3 separate regions of the Homo sapiens genome follow, and regions 1 and 3 are each linked to region 2. Evidence: fine-mapped expression QTL. A gene starts in region 2. Each other region holds a variant in brackets. All regions are shown on one strand. Distances are between the middles of the regions.

Region 1 (7,964 bases), 42 kb after region 2:
TCCTTGGTCCTAAGAAATTTAGATAAAACTCAAACCTTCAATTGTACATTCTGGCTAAAATCTGCCTGGGACAGAGGGGTTTCCTGAGTTGTGAGACTCTCAAGGCTAACACTGGAAAAATCCTGGACAAACTGTGACAAGTTGGTCACCCTGAGCTTATCTGAAGCCAGAGCCCTCACCACTATTTTCGCTCATTCTGAACAGCTTAATTTTTTTCTGCCCCCTTCTTTGTGGCTCCCATATTCAGGCTTTCTTAAATTCTACCTCTGGGGGACCTGCATGCAAAGCTGAATTCCTTCATGGTTTTTGCAAAGGATTCACTCTCACTCTGCATTTAACGAAGTAAGCAGCTTTCTAGGAGACTTAAGGGGGTCGCAGATTCCACTGAACAGCCTTTAATCATCCATTCCATTTCTCACTATTCCTCTTTTTCTTTCTCCTCCCTTCAATCTTTGTTGCAATCAGGAAATTTGTTCTCTATCTTATCTGGAGTATTCCTGCCCCGCAAGGTCCCTGGTAGCAGGGGTCCTCACGTTTTATTTCATGAGGAGATTATACCAAGAAGTCTTCCCAACAAAGTTGGGTCTCACTAAAAGGAATTCTTAACCCAGTGACTGAGATAATAAAATCATGTTTATTACATAAGATAATGAAGACTATTTTATATACACATGGATATAAATTTTTGACCTAGTTTGGGAATTATTAAGCTGGCTTCCTTTTCTCCCTTTCACAAAGATTGTGTAAGATGTAACTCCACCCCCAATTACACAATGCTGGTTATTTTCTTTTCTCATGGAGTTTACCAGTGGGAGCTAAACTGAGGGTACAGCTTAACCTGTCTTCTTGTTTTGGGGACAAGGAATTTTCCTCAGAGGTCCATGGTTTGATGCATTAACAAACCCCTCAGGATACTGGCTCTGCAAGGGGAATTGTGTGTGCATCCTAAAAATCAAGTGATGCATCTTTCCTAACAGAAGGCATTAAAGATTCAAGTCAGACTTGGATAAGAGGCCCTAATAATGAGAAAGTTGTCAAAGCCATTCATCAGGAAGAAGCTAGAGGGAGTGGGGCCAGATAGATGAGATTCCAGGAGGTTTCTGGGGGAGGATCCTTTCTGCTTCTCTTGGAGGTGACACATCTGTGAAGCGGGGGAACCTGTTTGGGGTGCCGGTCAGAAGTTTCACCTGGCTTTCGCTTCCTATTATTCAGCATGTCTGCACTCTGGGAGAGGCGATGTGTGTTATTTACAGAGAAATAAACCAGGAGAAGAGGGAGGCATAGGGAAACGCACACATGGATGATAATGGTAGGCCAAGAAAGTTTAACATTTGAAAACCTTCCCCAAGTCTCTGCCCATGTCCCCATTTGAAAAAGCTGAGTTTCACTGATCAGAGAACAACAGTACTAATGATAATAGCTAACATTTGTTGAATGCTAACTGTGTGCCAACACTGTGTTTAGTCCACACATGAAAAGATGTTCAACTTGATTGGTCACCAGGGAAATGTGAATTGCAACCACAATATGATAGCTCTACAGATGCACTAGAATGGCTAAAATGAAAACATCAGAAAAATACTAAGTGTTGGTAAAGATGTGGAGCAACTGAATTCTCATACACTGCTAGTTTGGATTTAAATGGGAACAACCACTTTGGAAAACTTGCTGGCAGTATCCACTAAAGCTGATACCTCTGATCCAGAAATTGTAAATGTATGTTCACCAAAAGATGAGTACAAGAATTTTCATAGCACCACTCTATTTGTAATAGCTCCAAACTGGAGACAGTCCCAATCTTCATCAACAGTAGAATGGATAAATAAATCATAGTCTATTTGTAACATGAACTATTACATAGCAATGAGAATGAATGAACTCTAACTACACGTGACACTATGGATGAGTCTCACTCCTTATAGTAACCCTATGAAGCAGTTCCTATGATTACTCCCATTTTACTGATAAGGGAAGCTGCTTACTTCATTAAATGCATAGTGAGAGTGAATATTTTGCAGAAATCCATAAAGGAATTAAGCTTTGCATGCAGGTCCCCCAGAGGTAGAAATAGGAAGGCCTGACTATAGGAGCTACAAAAGAGGGCACAGAAAAAATTAAGCTGTTTGGAATGAGCAAAAACGGTAGTGAGGGCTCTGGGTTCCTCATTTGTAAACTGGGAAGTGCAGTAGCTAGGATTCAAACCCTGGCTATTGAGCTCCAACCCTTCACCAGGATGCACCACTGCCCCCTAGGCCTCTACTCATACAAGCAGCCTGTGTTTGGTATGTGTGTGGGGGGTAGAAGTAGTGCAGGCTGACTTTGCAAAAGGCATCTATCAGCTAACTTTGACTACCATGTGTTAGGCTTTGTATATTAACATTACTTAGAGCATAAGGTTTAATCCTCACAACAGCCCTTTGCAGTGGGTTCTGTCAACATGCCCATTTCTACAAAAGGGAAAACAGATGCAGAGAGGTAAAGTCAGTCATCTGAGGTTGTATGACCTTAGCTACCTCTCTGCATCTAGTGTGTGATAGAGCCAGGATTCAAAGTAAGCCTTCCCCATCCCGCTACCTGGCTCTTCGCAGCACCAATAGGACAGCAAAGCCATGGGGCCACAGTGCCAACAGGAACCATCGTACCAGATCACAGGGCTTGAGTTCCTCGAGCTGTCCCTTGACAACAACAATGGAGATTTGAGGCTAAACCCTTGAGGTTTCATGAGGCCACCTGGCTTCTGAGCAAACTCTCTGCCATAGGTTTTCTTCACTGTTTTCAAGAGAAGAGGAAACGGGCATGTCCATGGCGCTGTCTATGTCTTCTTGGAAACAAAAAAGACTGTTAATCAGTCCTCTCTACAGCTTCTCAGCTTCAAAATTGGAAGCTATGTCGAAGTGCTCCTGGAAAAGCTGCTTTCTAGCAGTTCTGCCTGCTAGAAAGGGCCCCTTCTAGCAGGCAGAACAGAGAGGACTTGTACTGGAGAGAAAAAGTTACCTAGCATATGGTGGGCATGTGCGTGGAATTCCCCAGTGAGCTCTGGAATGGGCACGGGCCTGTACCTTGGGGCTCTCGAATAAGAAGCCTGGGCCCTACCAACGTCTGGCTTCTGCTGCTCAAGAAACAGATGCTAGGCCTTCCTGCATTGCCAAGAGCAGAGGCCTTTGGGGACTCAAGTTTGTTTGGCTTGAATGTGTTGGTGGAGAAATGAGAAGGTAGGAGTGAGGGCATCTTTTAACATTATCCCATGATTGTAGAGCTTCATCCTCTCCAGCCTTAATTATGACAGTAGCCTCCTACCTGGTCTCCCTGATTTCAGCCCTTCTTCTCCCTAACAGACCTTTCTCACAGCTCCCAGGTTGTGAATCCCTTGCCGGATGCTCCAGCTGCCACTTACCCAAGCACATGATGCTGTTGAATGTCGTTGTGTTTTGCAAATGTTGAATCATCTGCCTACAGTACCTTTCCCACTCAACGTGGCAAGAACCTACTTATTTTTGGAGGCCCAGTTCACAAGCTTTTTCTTTGGTGTTGCCTTCTCTCACCACCCTCCTGGGTAGAGTTCATTGTTCCTGTCTTAGCACTTCCAAAACACTCTTTTTCTTTTTAACACAGAACATCCTGGCTCTAGCAATGTACTGTAATTATTCGCCATCCTGTCTGTAGAGTAGACTGTGAGCTCCTTATGGGCAGCAGACATGGCGCATTCACACATTTATCCTCATATCCCTAATATCTAACAGTACCCAGCTTGCCCAGGAGGTGAGTGTTTGCTGGATGAAATCCAAAGGCCCAGCAATCACACGCCCACCCAGCCACTCACCCCCTCCCCCTGCCACGCACACAGGGTGCAGTGGCTCATGCCTGTCTGTAATCCCAACACTTTGGGAGGCTAAGGCAGGAAGATTGCTTGAGCCCCAGGGTTTGAGACCAGCCTGGGCAACATAGTGAGACCTCATCTACACACACACACACACACACACACACACACATACACACAGAGAACAAACAAGCAAACAAACTCAAAGGCACAGTTTTGAAGTATGAATTCATAGTACCTTTGCAGCTCCAACTCGGCCATTGAAAAAAACATGTCCTTCTCAGGCTGGCTTTCCCCTCCACAGTCACATGACTACGTCACTCATACATGCCCCTTCTGGCCATTTCAACATCAGTACAAGAAACTGTAGCTTTTACGCAAGGCAACGAGTTGCTTTCGGCCATCTCAGCTTTCTCATCCAGGTAGGTGGTCGTTATCAGTGATGTGGTCTAATCTGTAATGGAGTAATTGCACATGGGGAACAAGAGCTTATTTAATCGGTGTCCCCCAACTCCCATGATGGGTTAC[T/C]GATATCAAAAGGTGTTTTTTGTTTGTTTGTTTGTTTTTAGATGGAGTCTTGCTCTGTACCCCAGGCTGGAGTGCAGAGGCGCGATCTTGGCTCACTGCAACCTCCGCCTCCTGGGTTCAAGCAATTCTCTGCCTCAGCCTCCCGAATAGCTGGGATTACAGGCGCATACCACCATGCCCAGCTAATTTTTGTATTTTTAGTAGAGACAGGGTTTCACCATCTTGGCCAGGCTGGTCTTGAACTCCTGACCTCGTGATCCACCCACTTCGGCCTCCCAAAGTGCTGGGATTACAGGCATGAGCCACCACGCCCGGCCACAAAAGTTTTTAAAATGGCTGGGAATGGGGGCTCACATGTATAATCCCAGCAGTCTGGGAGGACAAGGCAGGAGGACCAGTTGAGGCCAACCCGGGAAACACAGTGAGACCACATCGCCACAGAAAAATGTTAAAATTATTCAGACGTGGTGGCATGCACCTGTAGTCCCAGCAACTCAGGAGGCCGAGGCGGGAGGATGACTTGTCCCTGGGAGATCAAGGCTGCAGTGAGCTGTGATGGTGCCACTGCACTCCAGCCTGGGCAACAGAGCAAGACTTTGTCCCCAAAAAGAAAAAAATATCAACTAACCAAACAAACAAAACTTTAGTAAGCAAGCCTCCCACCCCTCTTTATAAGGGGGTTTTTACAGAGTTCTCATAGGTTCTCCCCAAACCCCACTCTCCAGTTTCTCCTAGTATTAACATTTTACATTACTATGATACATTTGTTGCAATTAATGAACCAATACTGATGCATTATTATTAATTAAAGTTTACAATGTATTCAGATTTCCTTAGTTTTTACTTAATATCTGACCTTCTCTATTCAAGGATCCCCTCCAGGGTCCCACATTGCATTCAGCCATCCTGTCCCCTTTGGCTCCTCTCTCATCTGACAGTTTCTCAGACTTTTCTTGCTGACCTTGACAATTTTAAGGGGTTCTGGTCAAGGGTATTATAGGGTGCCCCTCTATTGGACTGTTTCTGTTGTTTTTCACATAATTAAACTGGGGTTATGGGTTTGGGGGAGGAAGATCATAGAGGTAAAGTAGTATTGTCATCCCATCATATCAAAGGAGTAAGTAAATTGTTTAAAAAGTGAGAGTATGATCGTTTTTCCCTCTTCCTCAAACCTGTGTTTCCTCCTATAGTTGCTGTTTCTATTAATGGCCTCATCACACACACAGTCATGAAGGCTAGAAATTGCATCTACTCTTTCTTCTCCATCCTCCATCCACCTAGTCAATTTCTAAGAAGCCATTGCCCCAGAGCTTCCATATTCCCCCCTTCTCTTATCCATACTGCCTCTGGTTAACCCCGTATTATTTTTTCCATAAATGATTACCATAGCCCCAACTGGTTTGCCAGGTTCCACTTCCCTACCTCTCCATTTTATTCTTCTTAGTAGTTTCAACTTACTAGTGGTTTAATACCAACTCCATCTTCATAAATCTTAGAATGGTTTTCTGTCACATACAGAATAATGTTCCAACTTCTCAGTATGGAATTCAACCTCTTCAGATGCTAGCTCCAGATGACTTTGTGGTAAACACTAGTTCCCTTAATCTATAATTAATGGGCTATAGGCATTTAATTAGCTGAAAAAGAAGTTGGCATTTTCTTAAATTGTTTTCTCCAGAAGAGTTAATGAAACTATGTGTATATTTGTGTGTGTGCATACATGCACATGCGTGTACAATGTGTAGACCTCACTGGGGATGCATATCTCTCTCCAGGTACCCATGGCCCAAAGGGTGGTGAACACACCCTGCCCACTTGCTGCATCGTTTGTATCAAGTTTAGAAAAGCTGAGAAGATGGTAAGGAGAAAATATACTTGCCCAGAAGTGTGTGTGTGGATGTTCAACAAGATCCCAACTCATTTTTTCTTTTTTAGTGGCTTAAAACAAGAGCACCTTTTATCTCCTGGTTGCTGTGGGTCAGGAATCCCCTGCACAGCGCGGCTGGTTCCCCTGGCTGAGGGCCATTCACAAGATCCTTCATTGAGGTATTGACTTCTCCATTCATTTTTGCACTTCAATCACAAACACTTCTTAAAATTAATTGGCCAAACCTCAGCTTCTTGAAACTTATATAATGCAGAGAGCCTCTGTCACATTCTGGGAATGGCATTTAAATGCAAATTGAATTCCTTCTTTCATGGGATAGCCAGTTGTCTATGTCACAGGATGTAAAAATAATTCATCATGCTTGATTGTGTAATACGGCTGTCCTATATTATACTTTAATGACAAAATTAATTGGCTTTCAGATTCCATCTGTCGCTATTCACATAAATCCACAATCTTCGTTATTAAAATTTAAAAGTGCATGAGGAATTTGTGAAATTCTCATAGGCAGCCTGCTGGAGAACGTGGGAACAGTCTAGACCAGGGACCCCTTTTGTTATACGCTACCCAACAATAGATGAAGAGAAGGGCTGACCCAGGTGGGGAAACCAGAGTGGAGAGAATAGGAGCCATGGGTCCAAGAGCACTCATAGGCAAGAGCTTGGATCAGTTACTGGATTAATTAATCAGGAAGATGAATGCTGTCTTTACATATTTATGAAGACTGAGCTCTTACCAGCTCAATGAAGCTGTGCTATGGGAAAAGGCAGAGACTGTGCAGAAATAGTCACCACTGATTTGGAAACTGTTTCATTTCCTGAGCTAATAACCAAACTCATTCCTCAGAGAGGAACAAAAACTGTTATTCTGGGGTGGGAAAACATCTATGGATCATCTGATACAAGCAGCAGCTGTAACCAAACCACTGGTATTGTCACCCTCTTTGGGAGTCCCATTTATTCATGGTAGAGAAGGTTTCAGTCTTCCATGGCTCTTGATAACTCTGGCAGTTACAGTTGCCAGTAGCGTAAGTTAAGACTGTTTATTAAGGGTTTTGTGGCAGGGTGCAGACATTGATATAGACCAAATTGGTCAGAAAGACGAAGAACACACAGAAAAACATGGCCTGTATTCCACTTTATGTGGATTTAGGTTTGTGTCCTCATCTTTACCTCGGCTCTCAAGAGGTATGCATGAGCATGGGTGTGCGTGCGCGTGCACACACACACACACACATCAGCCACTGTGTTCTTCCACTAGACTTCAATTTTGCCCTCATTAATGGAACCACTAAGAATATTTTGAAATGCTTTTTTTTTCTTTCTTTCTTTCTTTTTTTTTTTGCTGTTTTATTTGCGGCATGACTACTTTTCTTAGTGCAGATAGGCAATATTTAACAAACAGTCTGCAACATTGCTATTATTCTGTTTTAATTTTTGTTTCTCCTTTTTTTTGGTTCTATTCCTGTATGGGGGAGTTCTTTTTCTTTTTTTTTTTAAATCGTAACATAATTTTAGATTTTGCCTTGTTCATTCCCCACCAAAAGTCAGTCCTTCAGTTTTCAAAGTCATCATCATCTCTGGAGGGTCAAGAGCTAGGACTAAATCAGATCACGGTCATCACTGGCTGCCATTAACCCCTCTGATATATCCATCTGCTTTTCTAATGAGGCCAGAGGCCTGACGACTCATCAAAGCCTCAGGCTTGGTCTTAATGGGAGGATAAGGGTAA
Region 2 (7,964 bases):
ATGCCTTTGTGTTGATTCATGTGTTCATTCATTTTATAGCCTGTCTTCTTTCTATTCTTTGAAACCTGTCCAAATTGTTGAAGACAGAAAGCAGATATATCCGACAGCTTCTCTGTAGCAGATATGAAATCATTTGGCCTCAATTGTTTTCTCTTTTTTCCCTTTTTTCTTCTTAGTCTCTCCCCTCCCCTTTCCTCTTCTGCTCTATTAAGGATTTTGAATATAAAAGGAAATAGCAGAAGAGAGAAAACTCTTCATGGAGGGTCTGAATTTAGCACCTTATCTTCCAAAAAAGAACGGACTTTTTTTTTGGAGCAGCTAACATTTGTCAGATACCAGCGAAGTGCAAGAATCTGTTCTAAGCACTTTACATTTATTTGGTAATCTTCAATACAACCTAGTGGACAGAGGTGTCTTCCTAGCCCAGGGTAGGTGGTGATTTTAACCCAGGCATTGAGATGCCAGAGCTGATGCCCTTCCCTATTCAAAATAAAAAGTCATGTTGATCCCAGCCTCCCACAGTGTTAGGCAAGCTATGAAAAGTGAGAGTCCCCAGGGCTAGTGCTTTAACAATTTTGGGTAGTGATTCCACTACTAAATTAAGTATCATAATGATTGCTAATAATGAATAATAATAAAGTAGGTACTTGAAAATCCACAGGGCTGAGTGTTACCTCAGTTCAGTTTTCTCACCTGAACTTTAGCCACCCATTGATTTCCAGCTCCCCTATGGATATTTCCATTTGACTACGCCATGACTGTTCCTAACTCTGTAAGAACCAAGCTTAGTTATTTCTTTCCCTCTTGACCATTTCTTATTGCAGCAGATCTGGTGCCTCAGTCTGCCTTCCATGGTCTTCTGTACTCTGGTTCCTCAATACCTGCTAAAGACTGAATCCCACCACCCTCCCAAATTCCCTAATCCCCAGTGTGATGGTATTTGGAAATGGGGCCTTTGGGAGGTAATTAGGTTTAGGTGAAGCCAGGGGGATGTGGTCCTCATGATGGGATTAGTGCCCTTCTTGAAGAAGAGACAAGAGAGCTTGCTTTCTCTCCACCATGTGAGAATACAGCAAGAAGCTGGCCATCTGCAAGCCAGTAAGAGAGCCTCAATCTCGAACTTCTAATCTCCCACTTGAGAAAACAAATTTCTGATGTTTAAGCCACACTCTCTGGTATTTGTTGTAACAGCCTGATATGGTTTGGTTCCGTGTCCCCACCCAAATCTCATTTTGAATTATAATTGACAGAGCAGGAGTATCGCCATCTTGGACAAGGACTGTCATTTAAAAATTCACCTTAATCAAAAACCACCTAAATCCAAAGGGCATCAGCCTAATGGCTAAGGTCAGCATGAACATAAACCACAAATAACATCTCTGACCAGAAACATTCCAAACTCCTCCCTGATCAGAAACATGCTAGCCCCAAGATAAGCCCCCTCTGGCCAGGAAGATGCTAGCCTCAGATAACTCCCCTCTGGCCAGGAAGATGTCAGGCCAAGATAATAGAAACATTCCAACCCCACCATAAACTTCTCCCCCCACCCCCAAAGAAACATCCAAGCTTGTGATAAACCTGCTCACCCTAAAACCAATTTATACTCTTAGTCGGGAAGAGAAAGTGCTCCTGACCAAAATCAGCCAGAAGCCCCCTCAGGTTTTTTCTCTAAAATAAACCTGTCTTTGACTGTTAAGCCTTGTTTCATATTTCTTTCCTCTTTCTTTAACTCTTAAAGTAATAATCCCCACATGTTGTGGGAGAGAGCTGGTGGCAGGTAATTTAATTATGGGGGGCAGGTTTTTCCCATGCTGTTCTCATGATAGTAAATAAGTCTCATGAGATCTGATGGTTTTATAAAGGGGAGTTCCCTTGCACAAGTTCTCTTGACTACCGCCATGTAAGACGTGCCTTTGCTTCTCCTTTGCCTTCTGCCACGATTGTGAGGCCTCCCCAGGCATGTGGAACTGTGAGTCCATTAAACCTCTTTCCTTTATAAATTACCCAGTCTCAGGTATGTCTGTATTAGCAGCATGAGAACAGACTAATACACAGCCCAAGCTAAGACACTATATATAGCACCTAAGCCACCTATTTAGCATTTAAACGTATTAACTTTCCATCCCTTTTCTGCAAATCTACATTACCTGTCCTCTTGCCTGTTTTTTCACTCATTATTTTCCTGAGCTAGGCTGGCACTCCCCTTCCCCACGTAACTTCACCCTTAAAAGAACAGAAATTAAAGTTTCTTTTTCCCTAGTCTTTTCCTATATTTTTCCTACTAACTTCATTCTTTAGACTCCTACAACACTTAACTTGTACCACACAATATAGCACTTACTTGTATAAATGCTATTCACTTTGCAATAAATCCCTGTACTTTATTATTATTTTGAGACAGGGTCTCACTCTGTTGTACTGGCTAGAGTGCAGTGGTGTGATCTCAGCTCACTGCATCCTCAACCTCCTGGGCTCAGGTGATCCACCTCAGCCTCCCTTGTAGCTGAGATTACAGGTGCACACCACCATGCCAGGTTAATTTTTTGTTTTTCAGTAGAGACGGGGTTTCACTATGTTGCCTAGGCTGGTCTCAAACTCCTGGACTCAAGCAGTCTGCCCGCCTTGGCCTCCCAGAATGCTGGGATTACAGGCATAAGCCACCACACCCAGCCCGTGCTTTCTTTTTTTTTTTTTTTTTTTTTTTTTGTGAGACGGAGTCTCGCTCTGTCACCCAGGCTGGAGTGCAGTGGTGCAATCTCGGTTCACTGCAAGTTCCACCTCCTGGGTTCATGCCATCCTCCTGCCTCAGCCTCCCTAGAGCTGGGACTACAGGCTCTAAATATTTTTAGTTTTAATATAGTTCAATTTATACATTTTTCCTTTATGATTAGTATTTTGTGTCCTGTTATAAACTTTTTGACTACTTCAAGGTTGCAAAGATGTTCTCTTATGTTTTCTTATTAACTTTTAAAATACAGACTGACAATCCAAATGAAATGTATTTTTGTTTATGATGTAAGGAGGGTCCAAATACAATTTTTTTTGCATGGAGAGACACAAATGACCTACCACTATTTTGTGAAAATATAATCTTTTCTCCATTGGTCCATGTTCTGGAAGACTTGTAAAAAATGAATTTTACATTTATGTCTATATATCTATTTACATAAATGGTTAAAAACTCTACACATAATTCTAATATTCTTCTATTTTCATGCAATACTGTTGACACATACAGCCTATTAATGGCTGCATATAATGCATATATGTGCATTATATAGATGTACTGTAATAATTTAATTAATTCTCTTAAAGTAGACATTTAGAGTATTTCCATTTGGCTATGTTATTGAGATGCTGAAATGAACATTTTGTCCAAAGTGAGTGCCAGCTGTTTAATTATCTCCTAAGGATAAACTGCGAGGAGGAGGAATTGCTGGGTTAAAATGCATGTCCTCTTTTTTTCCCGAGACGGAGTCTCGCACTGTCGCCCGGGCTGGTGTGCAGTGGTGAGATCTCGGCTCGCTCCAACCTCCGCCTCCCGGGTTCAAGCGATTCTCCTGCCTCAGCCTCCCAAGTAGCTAGGATTACAGGCGCCCGCCACCACGCCTGGCTAATTTTTTGCATTATTAGTAGAGACGGGGTTTCACTATGTTGGTCAGGCTGGTCTCGGACTCTTGACCTCGTGATCCGCTCGCCTCGGCCTCTCAAAATGCTGGGATTACAGGCGTGAGCCACTGCGCCCAGCCAAAGTGCATGTCTCTTTTCAACGTTTGCCTTCTGGGCTAGGCGGCTTGGCTCATGCCTGTAATCCCAGCACTTTGGGTGGCCGAGACCAACGGATCGCTTGAGTCCAGGAGTTCCAGACCAGCCTAAGATAGGGAGATGCCATCTCTCTAGGAGGATCGCGTGAGCCCGGGGAAGTTGAGGCTGCAGTGAGCCGAGATCGAGCCACTGCACACCAGCCTGGGTGAGGGTAAGACCTTGTTTCAGTAAACAAACAAATAAATAAGTTTGCCTTCCGTAAGGTTTCTAATAACGTTTTTCTTCCATCCACAGATGTAAACCTGTTTCCCCATAGTCACACCAACAGTGGTCATTACCAAGGTTTTACATCTTTGCTAAACCGAGTAAAAAGAAAACTTGCTGTTTTCATTTCCATTCTTGTCTAATAATAGTTTAAACAGTTTTGTATATCCTTAGTGGCTATTTGTTTGACTTTTTTGTTTTTTGGGAGGCCTGTTCTAATATTTGCTCATTTTCCTTCTGGGGTTGTTGGCCTTTTTCTTATTGGCTTATTAAGCAACATAATTAATATATATTATGTCATGTATATATAAACAATCTTATCTTGCAGTTCCCTAGTTTGGCTTTTAACCTATCGTCTTTTGAGCTGCAGTTTCAACCCAGTCTGTACAGGAAGTAACAACTGTCCAGAAGAGTCTGAAAGCCCTTGGGGCCAGCAGCCAGTGAGCGGAACCAGCACGTCCTGACAGACAGGTTTGCCCCGTCCCTTCCCTCCCTCCCCCTCCCCCTCCCCTTCGCCTCCCTGTCCCTCTCCCTTTCACCCCTCTTCGGGACGGAGCCAAAGAATGCTCCGCCTGCGCGCGCCGCTTCCGTTGCCATAGTGGCCGGGGGCGGGAGGCTGGCGCCTCCCAGCTTCTGTACTCCGCGAAGCAAAACCTAGGGAGCTGAGGCCTAGGCGAGGCGAGAGTCGCCGGCGTGCGTAACGTTGGCGCACGTGACTCCGGCCCGGCCTACAGGGCGCGTGCGCAGTGGGACTTGAGTGCCTCCTGGTCCCTGTCTGCCGGCATTCGCGGCTGCGGGGCCCGGAGGTGGGACTGGCTTCCCGGTGCCGCGAGGGCGGGTCCGGACAGCCTTCCCCCCAGTCCGGCGCACCATCTCCCTGCCTTGTGGCTGGAGGCGCCGCGGACCCAAAGGGAGGGACCATCCCGGGAAGCAGCCCCGAGAGCGGAAGTGCAGAATGGCTTCCTCGAGAGAGTAAAGTGCAGCCTCTCCAGACACTGGGGCCCCAGTGGGCGTGGGCGAAGGTAATCCAGGCCTGGGTACGATTCCGGGCCCTCCTTCGACTTCCCAGCGGGTGAGCCAGGGGCTGGGACTGAGTTTCCTCCAGGTCAGGGACCGGGCCTCTGGAGTGGGGTTTGGGACTTACTTCACTAGATGAAATGAGATATGGGGTGCCCGGCCCAAAGTCAGCCCTGGATACTCACTGGCCGTTGTTTTCACAGTTGCTGGTAGGAGGAGTTGGCGGAAGCACTTGGAACTCCTTTATAAGTGTCAGCTGTGAGGTAAAAACTGTTGATGAGATCTTGTGGGTTTTGTTTTGGGTTCACTAATTTGGGCGGGGGCTACATAACTGCCTACTTGAGTTTGCAATATGAGAATGGTAATAGCGACCCACTTAGCAGAATTATGATGTCACAAAGCTCAAAGGACTGTTTAATGAAAGGCTCAGAGGATCATATACTGGAAAATTTTTCCACACACGCTGTAAGCCACATGCTTTTTTTTTTTTTTTTAAGTCATGCATTTAAGTGCTGGAGTGAAGTTGAGGTGCACTATTAATGACTCATATTCAGAACCTGAAGAGAGAGATCCCTTTTGTGCTAAGTATGATATCCACTCATTTATTCAGTAATACTGAGTGCTTACTGTGTACCAGGCAATGTCCAACTTCTTGGAATGGTCTATGTGTAAACAAAACAAAGATCTCTGTCCTGTGGAGCTTACATTCTAGTTTGGGGAAGACAAATAATAAACAGTAAACAAAAAGAAGGAAGTTATAGGTTGGAAGTACATGAGTACCATAGGAAAAAAATACAGCGAGGTAAGAGGCATGGGGAATGCAAGATGCAATCTTAGGTAGGCTTCACTGAGAAAATGACATTTGAGCAAATATTGGAAGGAGGTGAAGGAGTTAGCTGTGCTGACAGCTGGGGAAAGAGCATTCCAGGCAGAGGGACCACCAATGCAGAAAGACTTTTGTCTTGGAATGTGCTTGGTGTCTTCAGTGAACAGCAGAAAGGCCTGTTTGGCTGGAGTAGTGAGTAAGGGAGTAGTAATAAAAATTAGGTGGCAACACAGCAAAAGTATAGTCAGAACGGTGGAGTGTCTGAATCACTTAAGTTGTCCTCATGTGAAGGTAATTTCCTATTAGCTTAGGTAAGGTTTCACAGCTTAACTACAGCCGTTAATTAGTATGTGAAGTTAATGATTAAAATTAGACTTTTTCCGAAATAGAGTATAGATGAGATCTAAACATGGCTGTAGTTTCCAGCAAGCACAATGCGAATTAAGACAGAGGAGCTTGTTGAAAAAAACTTTTATATGCCCTTATTTTAAGATTTTAGTGAATGTGGAAACACCTCAGTTTTGTCTTCCTTTAGAAATTTGTCTAAATATAGCTCTACCAGTAAAAAAGAAACAAACAAAAAACAGGCATAGTGGCTGACACCTGTAATCCCAGCACCTTGGAAGGCCGAGTTGGAGGGATTGCTTGAGCCCAGGATTTTGAGACCAGCCTGGGCAACAGAGCAAGACCCCATCTCCACAATTTTTTTTTTAACTAACTGGGTGTGGTGGTGCACGTCTGTAGTCCCAACTCCTTTGGAGGCTGAGGTGGGAGGATCCTTTGAGCCTGGGAAGAGGTCAAGGCTGCAGGGAGCTATGACCTGTGCCACTGCACTCCAGCCTGGGTAGCAGAGTGAGACCCTGTCTCAAAAAAAAACTTTTTTTTAATATAAATATACCGTGGCAAACAAATGACTAAGAAGACACCTGTTACTTCAAGGAAATTACAAACTGGTAGAGTAGACTTGCAAATAATTTAAACAAAATAAGAAAGAATGAAAAAAGTGTGCTAAAAGAACAGTACAAAGTAAATGCTAAAAGAAACATCATCTGAATATTATTGTATGTATTACAGCAGTAGTTCCCTTTGTTTCTCATTTTGTCCTTGAACATCTGCTTTTCTGGAGTGATGATTTGATTGCCAATTTTTTCATATTTAACAAATTCAGATTTTTTTGAAAATCATTTGTAGAATGCATTGTGTATGCTAAATAAGTGCAGAATTTGTGAACTAAAGCATCTATTGATTAACATTGCACTAACAGGTACCATGTAATATTCATTGCTCTCCCTGCTGGAATTTGTAACTTTTCCAAAACTATGCCATTAAGCCATACTTCTCATATCCTTTTTCCTCTTCAGAAGGAAGAGGTTTCTTTGTTTCTGGTTTCTTTGGCAGTGTTGACTGCCAGAGTATGTAGAGTGACTATTTGTAATTTGTATATTCAATATGTATATTTCTTCAGTATAAAATTCTGCTATCCAAGTGTTAAGTTTTAGTGGCTAGAAGAAATAATGATATGTTATGGTGGAAGTGTGGAGCTGTCTGAACCATATGAAAGCCAGGAATCTATAGTTTGAGACATACCGGGTAAACAGTTGGTCACTTTCAGCATCAAGCAGAAAAAGGCTAACCACTCAAGTACAGCACAGTTTACAAGCAGTATGATGATGAACGTTAGTTGATGACCTGTATAGGTGATTGGTACCACCAAAGTGCCTGTCTTAGAGAATGAAATCTGGACAGAGGATGTATTCAACAATCCTACTAGTGAGGTAAGTGGCTTGTGGCAGGATCAGTACTGGGTTCAGGTACATGATCCTCTCCCTGAAGGAGGTAAAGTATGACGGGAACTAAAAAAAAAAAAAACGAAAAGTCACATGTTAGAGCTTGAACAAAGGTCATGTCCAGGGATGAATCTCTAAGGATGGATTTGTTTGAGGTCATGTAGGTGTTGTCACAGTCATTGGTAGGGAAGAACTTTGGGGAAGAGTTAGATGGGTTACTATGATAATCAGAGCTGTCATTCACTGATGATTATGCTTTGTTATATGTTTTTTATATGCTAGTATGTTTTATCTTCTTCTTAAAA
Region 3 (7,964 bases), 32 kb after region 2:
GCCATCATTCAGCACAGATTTGGGCATTGGACTGCTCTGTCAGTCTCCAATTTAATATGACTATTATGTAAATTTCTTAACCTTCCTGCAAAATGGAATAAATAATGCCCATCTCACAGAGTTGCCTGACAATTAAATGCCTGAAAGCAATTAGCACCATGTCTGACTTGTATGACAAGTTCAATGAATGGGAAGTTCAGGAATTATTGTTCTTGTAATTCAGTGATGAAAGGGCACAGTCTCCCCTCTCAGAGGACTTCAAGTCTGGTGAAGAAGATGAACAAGTATACAAATAACTACAGCTCAGTATGAGACAGTGTGATAAGGGCTATATTTGTCTGAAGTCACAAGGGTTCTCCTCACCTGACTTCAATCAGTCTCTTAGAGATGATCAGCTAACTCTTGAGTTTTGAGGTGAAGGAAGGCAAAACAAAACATTGTCTGAAGCTATGGTTGATATAAAATGCCAGGTACTGGAAGGTTGTGTATTTTAATTTTGATGAGGTCATATTTTCTTTTCCTTTTTTCTTTTTCTTTTTTTTTTTTTAACAGAATCTTGCTCTGTCGCCCAGGCTGGAGTGCAGTGGCACAATCTCGGCTCACTGCAACCTCCACCTCCCGGGTTCAAGCAATTCTCTGCCTCAGCCTCCCCAGTAGCTGGGATTACAGGAGCCTGCCACCATGCTGGGCTAATTTTTGTATTTTTAGTAGAGACAGGGTTTCGCCATCTTGGCCAGGCTGGTCTTGAACTCCTGACCTCGTGATTCACCCGCCTCGGCCTCCCAAAGTGCTGGGATTATAGGCGTGAGCCACCGTGCCCGGCTGGTCATATTTTCTTTAAGAGAAAACGATATTCTGGTCTTGAGCTATTATTTTAACTGCCCTGGGGTTAGGGAATGTGCTATTTAACAAGTAATGGCCTTGGAGGGCTAAGACTATGTTGGGTGGTAAAAGGAAAGGCAATAATGTAAAAGAAAGTTGAAATTTCATTCTGTTCCTCTTTCCTCTTCTTTCCTCTGTACTGCTGACTTTCATACCCTCCCTCCCCAAAGGGAAGGAGTGCCAATATGATTGGAAATATTCCAGTATTCTAGTTGGGCCAAGTTTCCTAGTGACCAGAGTCCCTCTGTATGAAAAAGTCTGCACTCTGAGTGGGTGCCATTCATGTGTTTCTTCTGTAAGTTTTTGCTTTGTTTAGTTTTGTTTTGAGACAAGGTCTCCCTCCATTGCTCAGGCTGGTGTGCAGTGGTGCAATCACAGCTCATTGCAGCCTCAACCTCCAGGCTCAAGCAATCATCTCATCTCAGCCTCATGAGTAGCTGAGATTACAGGTGTGTGCCACCACTCCCAGCTAATTTTTGTATTTTTTGTAAAGATGAGGGTCTTACTGTGTTGCCCAGGCTGGTTTTGAACTCCTGGACTCAGGTGATCCTCCCATGATCTCAGCCTTCCAGAGTGCTGGGATTATAGGTATGAGCCACTGCACCCTGCCTGTCTCTCCTGTAGTAAGTACCAGGGTCCACATTCTTCCTTCTCTATAGCAGCTGGCCTGAGCACATATGCTCTCCCTGTTCTGTCTTGTTTCCTAATTTGATCCCCATCTTACTTAACCATGTAGCAGCATGTGACACAGATTGTTGTCTTGACCTCTAGAGCACCATTTTCTCCTGTTTGCCTCCTATCTTGTGTCCACTGCTTCTCAGTCATCTCTGTTGGGTCCTCATTTCCCCGACTTAACATTCAAATACCCCAAGGCTCAGTCCCAAGACATCGTCTCCCTTCTGTCTCTTATGGATTTAAATATCATCTCTATATTGATGATGTTGGCATTAATTTTCTATAGCAGCTTAAAACAACATGAATTCACCTTACAGTTTTTAGGTCAGATGTCTGACATGGGTCTCACTGGGCTGAAATCAACCTGTCAGTGGGGCTGCCTTCCTTTCTAGAGGTTCTAGGGAAGAATTTGTTTCCTTGCCTTTTTCAGCTTCCAGATGCTTCCTGCATTTCTGAGCTTGTGGCTACCTTCCTTTATTTTCAAAGCCCACAAAATCTTATCTCTTGGAGCCTTCTTTGGCCACAGCAGGAAGAGTTATCTGCTTGTAAGGACCCATTTGATTCCACTGGGCCTGCCCAGAGAATCCAGGATAATCACCCATCTCAAGGTCCATCCTTTAATCACATTGGCAAAGTCCTTTTGTTGCCGTGTAAGGAAATATATTCACAGGTTCTGAGGATTGGCCCATGAACATCTTTTGGGAGGACATTGTTCTGCCTACAACAATGGCCAAATATATGTCTCCAGACTAGACCATTCTCCTGAACTCCAGAACTGTATATTCAATCACCTACTTGGCATCTCCATTTGGCTGTTTGGTAGACATCTCTAACCTACCTTGTCCAAAACTGAGCTCTTGAGCAACCTCCCCAAAACCTGCTCTTCTCACATTCTTCACCATGTCAGTGGATGGAACCTCTGCCCTTCAAATTGCTCAGGCCAAAACTCTAAGGATTACCCTTGACTCCTCTCTTCCTTTTGCTCCTGTATCTAGTCTTTCAGCAAATCCTGTTGGCTCTACTTTTAAAAGTTATTGATAGTGTGACAACTTTTCACCTCCTTCACTGCTATTGCCCTTTCTTAGCAACCATCACCTCCCATAGACCATTACAATAGCTTTCTAATGGTGTCTTTGTGTCTGTCTTGCTCCCTTTCATTCTATACCCAACACAGCAGCCAAAGTGATCTCATTGAAAAATAAGTTGGGTAAAGTCATTCCTCTGTTCAAAAACCAGAGACAAATTTCCATGTCACTTGGAGCAAAAGTCCAAGTCCTTAAAATGGCCTACAAGGCGCTAGGTGCTTTGTGTCCCCAGCCCTCACATTCTGTCTTTGGCCTTCTCTCTTCACCTTGCACGAGCCATCCAGCCACAGCAGCTTCCTTACAATTTCACAAATATTCAAAGCACTTTCACACGTCAAGATCTTCACACAAGCTGTTTCCTCTGCCTGGAACTCTCTGCCTCTAAAAAACCACATGGCTTACTCTGTCACCTCCTCCAAGTGTTTGTTCAAATGTCGCCTTTTTAGTGGGAGCCACCCCGAAACCTTTTATTTAAAATTGTATCTCTCTTACATTGCCCTTTTATGCTTTGTTTTTCCTGCACTTTATAATTTACTTATCTATCTTGCTATGGTCTATTTCCTCCATTAGAAAGTAAACTCCACAGAGGAAGGAGTTTATTCTTTGTGTTCGCTGCATATCCTCAGTACTAAGAACAGCGCGTAGTGGATTCTCAATTAAATGGGTGCGTGAATGAGTGAATGAATTCTCTCTAGCATCAGTGAGTGGATTTTGTTTTCTCCTTCCTTCCATCAAAATAATGAAGACCTCACTTGATCACTGGGAGGCTGGGATGAACAATGCAACACTGGCCAGCTCTCGTTTTAGGATGAGAGGCTTCTGAAAATTGACCTGCTTACTACTTGTACAGGTTTTTTACTGAAGAAATAAAACAAACAAGTCAACCCACTGATCCGTCTCTCAGTGCTTGCAATGAGAAAAGTTACAAAATTTAATCACTGTCTGTCATTTCTGATTCAAGGGAGTTAATAAAAGGATTAGATTAGTCCTCCTCTACCAGCTTCTCCTTACACTAAGAAGCAGGTGGTTGTCATGCCCACAGAGTCTGACTTGGAGTAAGCTCTTTTCTGTGTGCCATTCCTCTTGGAAGGAGTCCAAAACTAGCCAGACATTTGAGGGGAAAAAAAGGAACAAATTTCAAGGGAGTTGAGAAAATGCAGTGTTCTGAATTTTTTTCTCCCTATTGCTTTGTTTACCAGGCTGACCTTGAACTTCTGGGCTCAAGCAATCCTCCCAGAGTAGCTGAGACTACAGGTGTGAGCCAACATGCCCATCTATTTTTTTAAAGAGGAATTAATTACGTTCATTTAAAAGGGAAGGAATTCTCCTCTGAATTCAAGGTCTAAAAATTGATTCCAGGTTTGG[T/G]GTAGGAAATGTAAATGATGAACCTGGAACCTTTTGTTATGTTCAGGAAGGAAGAAAACCATTGACTGCCAGAGTTGTGGTGAATGGAACAGGAACAATTACGAGAATCAAAAAGAATAATCACTGCAATTGACTGAAGCATATCAAACATAAAAATATCTGAGCTCATTATGATACGTTAGAAAACTGTCATTCTAAATTTCTATGGTACCAACTCATTACTCTGGAAATTAATGAAGGTTCAGAATCAAGAATTTATTCTGTTTTTTTCTATATGAACTCTATTCAGGGAAAAATAGCTGATGAGGCAAGTTATTCTTTGTATTTGTATTTTTATTTTTTCTTTTTCTGATTTTGAAAGTTACTGAAGATGTCAGGGTAGAGCATAAGAAACTACTTTTTTCCTCCTGGGCCATTTGAGAGTCAGTTACCAACCTGATGCCCATCACTCCTGAACACTTCAGTGTGCATTTCCTACAAACAAGGACACTCTTAGATAACCATGGTCCAATCAGTAAAATTAGGAAATTTAACACTGTTAAGCCAGTTGTTCCAATAACATCCTTTGTAGCAAAAGGATCCTTTTCTTGCAATCATGTGGTGCATTTATTTCCTAAGTTTCTTTAGTCTTTTTCATTCTGGAATAGTTTCTTAATCTCTGACTTTCATGACCTTGGCACTTTTGATGATTACAGGTCAGTTACTTTGTAGACTGTCCTTCAACTTGGATTTGTTTGATGCTTCCTTGTGATGAGATTCAGGTCGTGCAGTTTTGGAAGGAATATCACAGAACTGAAGCTGTGTTGTTCCTTTTGCATCTTATTATCCCATGAAACATTGTTTTGGTGTGTCCCATCTCTGATGAGGTTCACTTTGATCACTTGATTAAGGCAGTGCCTGTCAGCCTTCTTCACTGTGAAGTTTCTCTTCTCTTTGTAACTAACAAGTATTTTATGAGGAGATACTTTGAAAATATTTAAATATCCTGTTCCTCGTCAAACATTCATTTTATTCATTTATTTATATCAGTTGGACTCCTGGATTCTCATTTTATTCAATGAGTTGTAGATAATTTGTTACTATCATCATTGATTTTGATGCTCACATTTCTCAGATTAGAAATGTCAGCCCTCCATCAATCTGGCTTCTGTGTCCACTTGGCACACCCCATCTTTCTTTGAGTGCATGAGTGCATCCTTGCTTTCTGGCTCAGCATGTTCAGGCATATCTGGTGTTCTCTTTACTCCAACTCTTGAAACAGACATTTCTCCAAGGACTTCTGATTCCTTTTAGTAAAGAATAGTATTTAGAAACCAAGATCAGGTGTCATTACCGTTAGGGCATTATTGCTCCCAGCCCCTTTTACACTCCTAGTGGATAGAACTAGAGAAAAATATGTAAGTGTGTATGAGTGTGTGTGAGTGTGTGTGTATGTAATGCAATGAGTGAACCTTGTGTGTATTCTGGTTCAAATGAACCAGTTGTAAAAACACATTTTGAGAGAGTTGGGGGAAGTTTATATGAACTGAGAATTAGATGATATCAAGGACTTGTTAATTTTGTTATACGTGACAAAGTCATTGTAGTCATGTTAAAAAAAAAAGAAGTCCTTATCTGAGAGAGGCAGCTGACATATTTACAAGTGAACTCTACCTTCAAGTGGGGTAAGTGAGATACAGGTGGAATATAGAAAGGACTATCTAATTTATTATTCCATATCTATATATATACACACACACATACATACACACATATTGTATGTATAGATATAAAATGTGAGATTAAACTTGAGCTTATTATACGTTATATATATATATAATGTGAGATTAAACTTGAGCTTATTTTACAAGTATCTGAAGTCTCAGCGCTTTACATGCAATGTTTGAACTCATTTAAACCAAAAGCTTCCTGTTGAAAGTAAACTTGAATCACAAGCCCCATTTTATAAGACCCAGAAAGGCTTTGATATGTCTGGAGTAGAAGACTTGTCTCCTGACCTTGAGTTTAGTGCATAATATACATCTTATCTCAAAGATAGAGTTGATAATTTGTACTGTCATAATGTATTCTTGGCTTTGGTTCAGGTTATGTGACATTAAAAGATTACTTAGGACCAAATGCAAAACCTTTCATAATCCTGTCTGTGAACTGTTGCTGGTTTGAGCACAGGGGCCGATATAGACATAAGGACATCTGTCCCTCACTGGGCAGGGGAGCTGGCCTCTAGCCTCTACAGCTGTTCCCTGCTGGAGCGGCCATAGTTCAGCAGTGCTTATTAACATTTTGAGCAGCTGTGGCAGCAAGCAGTTTGGTACAAAACAATCCATCAATTAATCTCTTTGTTATTGGACAGTTCAGACGCTTGTGCCTTGGTTAATGCTGTAAAAGGGTTGAGAAGGGTGTGACTCTTGTCTGTTACAGACAGTGACCCCACAGGAAGCTCCAGAGCCCGGAGAAGAGTGACAGTGTCAGGAGGTGGCGAGACAAATAGTGTGTGGGTTGTACACAACTCGCTCAACCCTGGCTGGCTGTGGCTTTGTCTCCCACCCTAGGAAGCATATTAGAATGGCAGCAAGGAGACAGCCAACCTCAGCTCCTCTTTATAAAGAAAAGTAAATTATTGGAAAACTTTAATACTTGGAGCATTGCTAACAAACTCTTGTCAGAATATCATGGTTCAGAGGCACTGTTCTAGTGGAATACTTTTAATAAAGAAAAGAAATGAAAAACAATCTCTACACACTTCCACAGAATTGTCCAGAGGCCCGACTCTTGCCAATGCTGAAAAATCCCTTGGAAATCTTCAGCTTTGCACTTAATTACCACCTCCTTTGGCTGTCTCTCTTTTACTGCTTTTCTCTCCTTCCCCTGTGATTCCCTTCTTGTTGCCAAACACACTTTCTCTTCCAGACACCATCTGCTTTCAGAATACATTTGCACTTTTTTTTCCTACCCAAAGTGGCCCTACTCTAGGGCCTATGTTTTCCCCTTTCTGGACTGCTGCTGTTGTGTTAGCGCCTGGGTTGGTGGGAAGCACAGCTGTGGCTTGCAGAATTGAAATATAGTTGGGAACCCAACAGAGACATTGTTTTCTGGCCTGGCAGTATGATTTATGTTCCTGGTGCCCCCATCCTCTTAAGAATCTCAGGGCTCAGGGATTGGTTTGTGGTATGTCTTTAAATGTATTTTGTTTGTTACACAAATTCAAAGAATTCCTAAGCATATAAAGGAGGAAGTGAAAGTAATTCTCTGCAACACCAGTCACTTTCCCCAGAGGTAAGTGACACGCATAGAGACCCTAGTGACTGTTCTCCAGTGTCATGCATGGCCTTCGGTCTTTTTGGTATGCATGTATCAAAATGTGTAATATAAATACATAGAAATGGGATCATGCCATATATACACCTGCAACTTGCTTATTATTACTTTAAATAAATATCCTGGGCATCTTTTCATGTCAGTATACGTACATTTTCTCATTACATTTAACAGCTGGTATTCCACAGTGTGCATATATATGGCTTATTTACTCAGTCCATTGCTGATACATATTGTTTCCAATTTCTCATTATTATTACCAATGTCTAGCACATTTATCTTTATACATGTACAACTGTATCTGTAGGAGAGTTGGAATGGCTGCGTCGAAGGGTATGGTATAGGAATTTTAAACATTGGTAGATAATGTCCTAAACTTTATATCTAATCACTAAAGCATTTTCTCCCTGAAATTATCAGAAATTATATGGGATAAGTGATAACTGAAGTGTAAAGTGTAAGGTATTTTACAAAGTATTTTTGTTCAATTTATTTAACACTGACAGGTATTCTGTAAGGGAGTGTTATGGACTGAATGTTTGTGTCCCACTCACCCCCCAAATTAATAGGTTGAGATGGTGGTATTAGGAGTGGTATTAGGAGGAGGGTCCTTTGGAAGGTGATTAAGTTATGAGAGTG

What was found. PIP is the estimated chance that this variant, and not a neighbour inherited with it, causes the effect. A credible set is the group of variants that fine-mapping cannot tell apart.
Region 1: its variant is the best candidate, but not a certain one, in a credible set for the expression of CMTR2 in whole blood (TOPMed, PIP 0.54).
Region 3: its variant is the best candidate, but not a certain one, in a credible set for the expression of CMTR2 in whole blood (TOPMed, PIP 0.89).

What each region holds. Positions count from the first base shown.
Region 1 is chr16:71,243,837-71,251,800 of GRCh38, reverse strand. No RefSeq gene overlaps it. Among named protein-coding and RNA genes, the nearest start is that of HYDIN, 17 kb to the right of the region's middle. The variant T/C (reference allele first, on the strand shown) is at 4,346.
Region 2 is chr16:71,286,223-71,294,186 of GRCh38, reverse strand. CMTR2 (cap methyltransferase 2) reads left to right here and starts at 4,785. Exons shown (of 3, transcript NM_018348.6): 1 at 4,785-5,051; 2 at 5,250-5,309. It overlaps LOC102723786 (a long non-coding RNA gene), which reads right to left and starts at 5,387. Exons shown (of 4, transcript XR_933707.3): 1 at 5,232-5,387. RefSeq lists silencers at 4,513-4,582, 4,663-5,032.
Region 3 is chr16:71,254,313-71,262,276 of GRCh38, reverse strand. No RefSeq gene overlaps it. Among named protein-coding and RNA genes, the nearest start is that of HYDIN, 28 kb to the right of the region's middle. RefSeq lists a silencer at 6,256-6,492. The variant T/G (reference allele first, on the strand shown) is at 4,008.